Linked DNA regions of Homo sapiens. The protein of the gene in region 1 interacts with the protein of each later gene in a pairwise test. Each region holds a gene or a part of one and is shown in the gene's direction. Other genes may lie near its edges. The genes, in order: TLE2, PAX9 and BARHL1.

Region 1 (3,654 bases):
TTGGTAGTTGCAACAGAGACCTCTGGCCTGCAGAGGGAAAATGTTTTCACTCTCTGGCCCTTTCTAGAAAGTCTTCCAACCCATCCTACACACACCCACACACAGGTGCACCCCCATGGGAGCTCTGTATCCGCATCCTGATACCTCCTTGGTGGAGACAGCCCAGATGTCTGTCTTCAGGAGCGTGTATACACAAGCAGCCTCAGAGTGCATACAGTGGAATATACTACTGTTCCGCTATCCTACACGGCAGTCACCAGCCCCGTGTGATCATTTACACTTAGGTTAACTATTAATAATATTTAAATCTATTATTTTTTTCCTTAAAAAAATTTTTTTTTTTTTTGAGACAGAGTCTTGCTCTGTCGCCCGGGCTGGAGTGCAATGGCACGATCTCAGCTCACTGCAATCTCTGCCTCCTGGGTTCAAGCGATTCTTCCACCTCAGCCTCCCGAGTAGTTGGGATTACAGGCACCCACCATCATGCCGGCTAGTTTTTGTATTTTTGTAGATGGGGTGGGGGGGTGGTTTCACCATGTTGGCCAGGCTGGTCTTGAACTACTGACCTCAGGTGATCCATCTGGCTCGGCCTCCCAAAATGCTGGGATTACACGCGTGAGCCACCGCACCTGGCCTAAAAAAATTTTTTTTTACAAAAATTAGCTGGGTGTGGTGGCAGGTGCCTGTAATCCCAGCTACTCGGGAGGCTGAGGCAGGAGAATTGCTTGAACCTGGGAGGCGGAGGTTAGCGTGAACCGAGATCACGCCACTGCATTCCAGCCTGTGCGACAGAGTGAGACTCCGGCTTAAATAAGTATATATGTATAATGTAACAGAGAGGGAGTCTCACCATGTTGCCCAGGCTGGTCTCAAACTCCTGGACTAGCGTAATCCTCCCACTCCAGCATCCTAAAGTACTGGGATTACAGGCATGAGCCACTGCGCCCGACCTGAAATCTATTAAGTTAATTTTATATTTAAATTTATATTTAGGCTGGGCGCAGTGGCTCACACCTGTAATACCAGCACTTTGGGAGGCTGAGGGGGGCAAATCACTTGAGATCAGGAGTTCAAGACCAGCCTGGTCAACATGGTGAAACCCCGTCTCTACTAAAAGTATGAAAATTAGTTGGGTGTGGTGGTGCGCACCTGTAATCTCACCTACTTGGGAGGCTGAGGCAGGAGAATTGTTTGAACCTGGGAGGCGGAGGTTGCAGTGAGCCAAGAGCATGCCATTGCACTCCAGCCTGGGCAACAGAGTGAGACTACGTCTCAAAAAAGTAAAAATAAAAATAAGCCTATTAAATTTATTTTATATTTAAACTTGTATTCACTTAAATTTAATAAAATTAATCATTCTATTCATCAGTTGCACCAGCCACATGTCAAATGCCTGGTGGCCACACACATGGCCAGTGGCTTCTGTGTGGAACAGCAAAAATACAACATTTTCTTTCTTTCTTTTTTTTTTGAGACTGAGTCTCGCTCTGTCACCCAGGCGGGAGTGCATGGCACGATCTTGGCTCACTGCAATCTCTAACTCCCGGGTTCAAGTGTTTCTCCTGCCCCAGCCTCCCGAGTAGCTGGGATTACAGGTGCATGCCACCATGCCTGACTAATTTTTGTATTTTTAGTAGAGATGGGGTTTCACCATCTTGGTCAGGTTGGTCTCGAACTCCTGATCTCGTGATCCACCTGCCTCAGCCTCCCAAAGTGCTGGGATTACAGGTGTGAGTCACCACGCTCAGCACCCCCCCCCCTTTTTTTTTTTTTTTTTTTTTTTTTTGAGACTGGGTCTCACTCTGTCTCCCAGGCTGGAGTGCAGTGGTGCAATCTTGGCTCACTGCAACCTGTGCCTCTTGGGTTCAAGTGATTCTCCTGTGTCAGCCTCACGAGTAGCTGGTATTATAGGCACCCGCCGCCACGTCTGGCTAATTTTTTTTGTATTTTTAGTAGAGATAGGGTTTCACCATGTTGGCCAGGCTGGTCTTGAACTCCTGACCTCAAGTGATCCACCTGCCTTGGCCTCCCAAAGTGCTGTGATTACAGGCATGAGCCGCCGCGCCCGGCTCAGATATAACATTTTCTCGCAGCAGAGTCCCACAGCTCTGAAAGCTGAATATGCTGCCGCCACCCACCACATCATGGAAGAAGCTTAAAATGTTATGCTGAGAGGCCAGATGCCAAAGAGAACTCAGAGAATGAGCCCACAACGTAGTTGAAAACGGACAAATCCACGCAGGTTTAGGAAGGCGATCGTAGGAGGCAGAATTATACAGAAAAACAAAGAAATTATTGTCATGAAGGTGGAGGAGGGAGGGTGTTCTGATGGCAGGGAGTGTAGGGGGCCCCTGGAGTCTGGTACTTTCTGTTCCTTAACCTAGGAGAAGGGTCCATGGTGCCGATTTATCACAGTGTTTTTTTTTTCTTGGGGGTAGTTTTACCACCAGGAGACGTCTGTGGTTGTCACAACTGGGGGTGCCCCTGGCATGGAGTGGGTGGAGGCCAGGGATGCTGCTCGGCTCCTTGTAGTGCCTGGAACAGCCCCGCCCCAGAGAACAATCCAGCCCCAGATGTCTTTGGTTCTTCGATGCTCCAAAGGAGAGACTGTGATTTGTAATATATATATATTTTTTCTTGAGACAGAGTCTCGCTCTGTCACCCAGGCTGGAATGCATTGGCACGATCTCGGCTCACTGCAACCTCCACCTCCCGGGTTCAAGCGATTCTCCTGCCTCAGCCTCCTGAGTAGCTGGGATTACAGGTGTTTCACCATGTTGGCCAGGCTGGTCTCGAACTCCTGGCCTCAGGTGATCTGCCCACCTCAGCCTTCCAAAGCGCTGGGATTCCAGGCGTGAGCCACCATGCCCGGCCTGATTTGTAACTATTCTACCTGCACTTAGGTTTGGTTTCTTTCTCCGTGTGCTTATTTCAAAATTCCAAAAGGAAAGGGAGAGAGTGAGAGGGAAAAAGATAAAAGAGAAATGGGAAGTACCGGGGCAAAGATGAGAGGGTGGCGGGGAGAGGTCAGGTCCCCAAGGGCACCGCTAGCATGAGCAGGGGCTCAATGTACCCTCTACCTGATCCCTTCCACCCGCCAGCATCAGCAGCAGGTGCTCCAGGCCGTAGAACGCGCCAAGCAGGTCACCGTGGGGGAGCTGAACAGCCTCATCGGGGTGAGTCTCTCTAGCCCCTGCCCCGCCATGGGGAGACGCCCACTCCCAGGTCCCTGGCACCCACCCAGGAGGTGTTAAAGCTGGGGTGGTGTGTGGGCCTTGGCTCCAGTGGTCCTGGGAACCCCAGGGGCACATGCTGTGCTTAGGTCCCATCCCCTGTGTCTACCTCTTGGGCTGGGGACCGCTGGGCTCCTGCCGCCCCCCGCCCCGGCCCATCCTGCCTCCTTTCTAGCAGCAGCAGCTCCAGCCGCTGTCCCACCACGCACCCCCTGTGCCCCTCACCCCCCGCCCAGCCGGGCTGGTGGGCGGCAGTGCTACGGGGCTGCTTGCTCTGTCTGGAGCCCTGGCTGCCCAGGCTCAGCTGGCGGCGGCTGTCAAGGAGGACCGTGCGGGCGTGGAGGCCGAGGGGTCCAGAGGTGAGTGGGCAGCACGGGGTGGCATTGGCTGGGGAGACGGGGCTGGGGAGGACGACTGGCAG
Region 2 (3,654 bases), on another chromosome or scaffold:
GGTGTTTTTAGTGTTGTTAATAGTAACGATACCAACAATAATTCACTGGATGCCAAGACAGCACTGGTTTCTCGGCAGGCTCGCCTGCCGGGACTGCTGCATTGTGTTTGCAAACAAAGATTTTAATTTCTAAATTCACTTCAAGAGATTTATCCACGTGGCTTTTAAAAACTCACATCACAGGACCCAAAAACTTTGCAAGCAAAATTTCCAGTTTCAAAACCAGGCATATGCAGTTCTTTTATATGGGGAAAGACAGTTTCCTTTCTGATAAAACAGTCCTGGAAAAGGCACTTGCAATATTCATTTAAAAATCCTTACAAGACAAAGTGCCTGATTTTTGTATGTCCTTTGTCCAACGGGCATTTTCAATATGATCTCTTAAAATATGGTCTATATTTTCTTTAACGAAGGTCGTGTTTGTTGTGCGTTTCTAACATGACAGGCTGCAGTCTGTGCCCTTCTTTACTGAAAATGAAAGTTATACCAACCAGGCCTGTCACAAGTGCCTCAACAAAAGAGCCAAACAAAACCCAAGTCCCAGGAAGGTTGACAAAGGCAATGAGGACAGCCGAACAGATTCTAAGAGTATTTAATTGCCATTAATTCTTTTCTCACCCTGCACCTCCTTCCTGTACTTCCAAGTGGCACAAGCAAATACTACGAATTTTCTGGTTGCAGCTTTCTCTAAATGTTTGTGGAAAGAATAATATCTTGTCATTATGTTTGTTTAAGTGGCAAGACTGTGAATGTCTTTAGAATATAATAAAGCTCAAATTTTTTTAAAAAGTTGGAGAGTAGAGTCAGAGCATTGCTGGCTTACTCAGACTTAAGTTCTGCTTCTTTCTAAGAACGTGTGAAATGTTCACTCCTATAATGTGATTATTTTTCACTTCTTTTCTACTCCTCTCAGGCACCAAATGGTCTCCCAGCTGTGGGCAGTTTTGTGTCAGCATCCAGCATGGCTCCTTACCCTACCCCAGCCCAAGTGTCGCCTTACATGACCTACAGTGCTGCTCCTTCTGGTTATGTTGCTGGACATGGGTGGCAACATGCTGGGGGCACCTCATTGTCTCCCCACAACTGTGACATTCCGGCATCGCTGGCGTTCAAGGGAATGCAGGCAGCCAGAGAAGGTAGTCATTCTGTCACGGCTTCCGCGCTCTGATGGGAAATTCCGTCTCCAGCAGCTTCACCCGGGTCTCCCTGTCTCAGCACCTCCTCCCCCAATTCCCAGGTCTCACATCCCACCCCTCCTGCCCTCCAACCCTTCTGCCTTGAAAGCTGGCTGTACGGACTCACATCCTTTGTGCTAATGACACTTACATATTTCTTGCCATAACTTTTCTCTTGCAGAAAAACTGACATGACTTTAGGATTTAAAAACAAGAGCAACAATAAGCATTGAATGAGACATTTGTGTTGCCCACATACTGTCTTAACATAACAAAGAAACCTACACCCCTCAAAGGGTTTAAGGAACTTTACAAACTAGTCTTTGGTAAAACCACATGTGTATATTTATTCTAAATCAACCTGAACTTTTGAAATGTGCAATTGTTGAGATTTTGCAAAATCAATAAAGGAAAATACTTATAGAAAAAATTATGCTACACCCTCTAATCAAATATGGTAACCAAGTAAGCTTTAATTCATCATTAGGAAACAAATCAATAAGTGACTTGTTTGAGTGATCCTTTGTTTAAGACATGACCTATTTTGTTGAAAAATATATGTAGAACCCAAGCAATATCTGAATCTAGCTCTCCCTGGTGTTTTGACTTGGTTCCAAATACAATAATGTTTATATTTTCTATTAGTTTGTAAATACGGACTCTGGATGGTGCATTTGTGTCTTCATTCCATAAGATATTCCCCTCCCCTCAGCCCCACCCCCTCTCTATTTTTTTCTTTCTTTTTTGCAAAGGTGACTTTCTGGCAACGTCTTTGTCTCTGTTTGGTGGTGGGCTGCTCGGGCTCCTGGACCTGGACTTGCCCCCAAATTTTGTGTATGCAGTGAAGGCTTCAACATCTCATGAAGGACACTTTATTTCTACAGCAGAGGACACGAAAAACAGATAAAACAAGCCAGTCTCCCATTTTGTACCTAATCAAACAACACACATGCTAAGCATATAAAGACAAGAGGGTGGAAAATATCTGAACAAGAAGGCTCTAAAGGAAGTCACTTAGAAACTTAAGTTTAATGTGAAATGTTTTGCAAAGATGCTTAAAATGAACTTTGTGTTAAGAAAACCACTGTGAAACTAAATTGTCCTATTATTGTTGGCTTACCTGTGTGTTCAGCAATCTCAGCCCCAAATAATGTTGTAATTTAAAGAAAATGGAAAATTCTGCTCTAATGAATGTAACAATGGCTTGCTGTGAAGTTTACATTGTTGTACAGAAGCATGTTTCGCATGTAGGTAAACTGGTGGTGGTACTAGAAATACAATGTTATTTAATTTTAACAAATTCCCTTTATTCATTTCTGAAATTACAGGACACAGTTTAACTCATAAACCTTTCTAGACCAATTTATTTTTCACTTTAATGTTAATAACAGTTGTGGAGTATATGTGTGTGTGAGCATGTGAGTATGTGTTGTATTTTAAAACAATTGATTTTCTGGGGCAAAATTCTACAGTTTTTAATCCCTTCTGTTTAGGAAGTTCTTCCTGTTTGGCAATATAGGCTTAAAAATATGTTTTTAGGACATTGGTACAATTCAGCTGTTGGAAAATTAATATATTGAGGGTTTTTTGGTACTAATTCTGTGCAATAACTAAAAGAGCACCTCACTGGATATGGATGTTGAAGATGGATTCCCTAGGTGATTTTAATTTCTTCCGGTCTGTGCTGTGCACAGTCTACATGGCAATGCGGTTCCACCACATCGGTTTCGTGGCTTCGTTTAAAACTCAGATGGCTAGATTAGTTAGGTTTTCAAATCACTAGGATGTAAACAGTAAGCAGATTTCTGACACACAAATTATGTTAGAGTGACTGCTTTTTTCAGACAGCAGATATCTTATAGAGAGCTTTGAACTGCATTTATTTCTAAAGCAACCGAAATTCAGTGCTACAAATAGAGGATTATAACTTCAGGAGAAGAATAAGCAGAAGGAGCAGATGAACTCTCAGGGCCATAGTCTTCCTTTGATCTTGTAAAACTTCCATTGACATCTGGAGTTCCCAGTCTGGTGAGAAAATAGACTATAAACTGAATGGAACAAAGATCCAATCCAATATTTTGGTGGAGACTTCTTTAAAACCATACCATACAGGGACTCTCCTGTCATCTGAAAAACTGATGTAAGGTACAGAACTATTCTTTATCAAATGTTTTTAGGTGGCTGTTAGGGGGCTTTAAAAAATATTACTTGCTTGTGTGGAAATGCAAATAATGTTATTTTCTTTATCTAAATTAAGAAATCTCTTGTTATTGTGCTATTTATAATTTTTTTCTGGTTCTTGTATTTTAAAAAATCTAATATTAATGGTATTGAAGTTTCCTTTTCTCCCTCTAGGTCTTAACAGTGAATTCACATGGAGTAATTTTTAAAAGATATCAGATACAATTTGCTATTCAAAGAAAATTATGATTTAAAGCCACTTTTTAAAATACGAGAAGGAAAATAGGATGGATTAAAG
Region 3 (2,728 bases), on another chromosome or scaffold:
TCTGTGAGGCTCTTCAGGCCTCCCCAGCCTTTCTGGTCCCAAAACCCGAGGGGGGAACTGGCCAAGCCCTTGTTCCTTGGGGACAGGGTGACTGGGAAGTGGGTGTTGGGGCACCGGACTTGAACTCGTTTCCTAATTTCCCTCCCGAACACACTCACCAGACGTAGATGCAAATGTACAAACACAGAGGCATCCACACACTCAACCCAAATAGCCACACACCGACACACACATCAATACAACTTGCAGTCACACACGCACGCACGCTCAGCCCCACAGTCACTCGCACGCTCTTAGCAGAGGCAGGAATGGTGCTTTTCATAAACAAGCCTCAGAACACATCGCCCCATTAATAATAAATACTGATTACTGCTCCGGGCATCAATAATTAAGGCCTGTTACAGTAATTACACAATTATGATGATGATGAATAATTCAGGGAGGGAAACAGGGCTGGTGTGGCTGAGCCCACCTTAGTGGGACCCTGGCTGGTCCGCCTAGCCTCACCTGCAGGTGAGCCTAGGGTCCAGGCCTGACTTCTCCAAACCCCAGGCCGTTGGCTGGCCAAGGCCTCTGGACTTTGGGGCCAGACAGTGCGCAGGGCTCGCAGTGCGAGCCCTGGAGGATGGCAGGTGCAGCCTGCTCCAGCCGGCAGGGCGTGCGAGCCGGGAGCGGGTCCTCTCCGGTTGCCATTTCAGGCCTGCTCGCTTCTGCTAGCTTGCAGCCCGGCCAGCCTGCAGAGGAATCAATCGCATTCCCTTCCCTGAAGAGCACCCCCCCATCCCCTCAGGCCTCTCCAGGGTGATCCTACCTTCATAAAGAGGCACGCGCAGGGAGGAGCACCCCCTACCCAGCTCCAAGGGTTCGTTCTGCGATCTCCTGGGCAGGGTAAGGCGCAGTTAGAGCCGGGCTTTGGGGTCAGACAGCAGGGCTTAAAACCCAGGCTCCTTTTTGAAAACCGGCCCAGACCTCAGTTTTCCTCTCTGTAAAGTGGGGTAAGAGCCACGGAAGGCCGGTGGAAGATAAAAGGAGAGGATGCACGTAAGGCGTGCGATGGTGCCTGGCACTCGGTTATTTATTAACAAATGAGTACGATCCCTCTTGGCCTCCCTACAGGCTCTCTGGGCCAAGCAGTGGGGAGGGGCTGGGGTCGCTGGATGCCCTAGCCCTGATCCCGCCATACGCGTTTATTTCGGCCCCCAGGACTAAATGGAAGCGACAGACGGCCGTCGGGTTGGAGCTGCTGGCGGAGGCAGGCAATTACTCAGCGCTCCAGCGGATGTTCCCGTCGCCTTATTTCTACCCGCAGAGTCTGGTTTCCAACCTGGACCCCGGCGCGGCGCTCTACCTGTACCGCGGCCCCAGCGCGCCGCCGCCTGCTCTCCAGAGACCTCTGGTGCCCCGCATCCTCATCCACGGACTCCAGGGCGCCAGCGAGCCGCCCCCGCCGCTGCCCCCCCTGGCCGGCGTCCTCCCACGCGCCGCGCAGCCTCGGTGAGGCGCCCGTCGGCTCCGGGGCCTCCTCCCGCGGGCTCGGCGTGGCCCCTTCCGCCCGCCTTTCTGAGGGCGCAGGTTCGACGCCCTTTCCCGGGAGGGGGCCCTGCCCGGCCCTCCCTGGCGCCCCAGCCCAGTGCCCCCCGAAGGGCCAAATGCCAAGTCCACTGAGGCCCGGACCCCGGACTGCGTCTCCCCAGCCCCCCTCGGCGTCCTCTCTCGCGGCCGCTCTGTCCGGGAGCCATCCCCACCCGCCGGGTGTACATACGCGTCTCTGCCACTCCCCACCCCCAGCCTCTGCCGGCTCCCCTAGGCAACCCCTTTCTCCCCAGGAGCGGGTGCGGCTGATTCCCAGGCTTCGCTCTCTCCCACGCCCCTTCTACGCTCCAGGTGGAGAACAGCCCCTCTCCCCGCGCCCCCGCCAGGGAGAGAAGGGGAGTGCGGAGCCCCGTCTCCCTACCCCTCGAGCACCTGGGCCAGCGGCTGAGCTGTACATACCGTGTGCAAAGTGTATATGAAGTTATTTATTCGTGACCCATGAGCCCGTGACCGTGTCCGTGGATTAGTGAGTCTGTGGCCTGTGCCCTCCCCACTCCCAGGCGGGGCAGGAAGGGGCCAAGGGGGCTTGCCCACCCACCCCGACCCCAGCCCCCAGCCTCAGCCCCGGTCCGGGGGCAGCCAGGCCTCTCGGGTTCTCTCTTTTTTAAATGTCGAAATAAACTTCTTACAAATGACCAGGCGCCTGTCCGCGCTCGCGTCGCTGGGTCCGCACTCAACCCCTCTCCCATCCCTCTCCTGGGGACTCGGTTTCCTTCCATCCTCAATAACGAAACATTTTTGTCCCCCTTCTCTTCCCCGGTGCTGTGGACATGCGCGGGGGCCCCGACGGGACTCGCTGGGGCCCGGGTCTCCCCTCCCTGGCCTCAGTCTTCCCATCTCTACAGCGAGGCCAGCTCGTTGTTCCCCTCCTCCTCCTCTGTCTCCATCTGGTTCCTAGCGGCTCCCAGACGGTCCCGAGGGCCGGGGCGGGGGTCCGTGCCGGAACAGGCGGGGGTCAGCGCGGGGCCTCGGTCGGCTGCGGGCCGGGCTGCGGGGCCCTCGCCGAGCCGACTCATCTGGCCGCGACAAGGGCCCCGGCAGCTGGTGACCGGCCCGCCGGGCGCGGGCCGACAGATGGGCTCCGAGGCTGCTCCCCCCATCACTCCCACCCTCCGCCCAGCGTCCGGCCGCGCTC

Evidence for each region.
Region 2: the proteins of TLE2 (region 1) and PAX9 interact in a two-hybrid assay, tested with the Homo sapiens proteins (one large-scale study listed by BioGRID and IntAct).
Region 3: the proteins of TLE2 (region 1) and BARHL1 interact in a two-hybrid assay, tested with the Homo sapiens proteins (one large-scale study listed by BioGRID and IntAct).

The regions. Positions count from the first base shown.
Region 1 is NC_000019.10:3,019,221-3,022,874, reverse strand, and holds part of TLE2 (transducin-like enhancer protein 2), read left to right. Parts: intron 1-3,101; coding exon 3,102-3,176; intron 3,177-3,408; coding exon of another isoform or gene 3,409-3,411; coding exon 3,412-3,592; intron 3,593-3,654.
Region 2 is NC_000014.9:36,675,285-36,678,938, forward strand, and holds part of PAX9 (paired box protein Pax-9), read left to right. Parts: intron 1-913; coding exon 914-1,168; 3' UTR 1,169-3,199; coding exon of another isoform or gene 3,200-3,200; 3' UTR 3,201-3,654. UniProt on the Homo sapiens protein: Transcription factor required for normal development of thymus, parathyroid glands, ultimobranchial bodies, teeth, skeletal elements of skull and larynx as well as distal limbs.
Region 3 is NC_000009.12:132,588,025-132,590,752, forward strand, and holds the end of BARHL1 (barH-like 1 homeobox protein), read left to right. Parts: intron 1-1,203; coding exon 1,204-1,498; 3' UTR 1,499-2,228; downstream 2,229-2,728.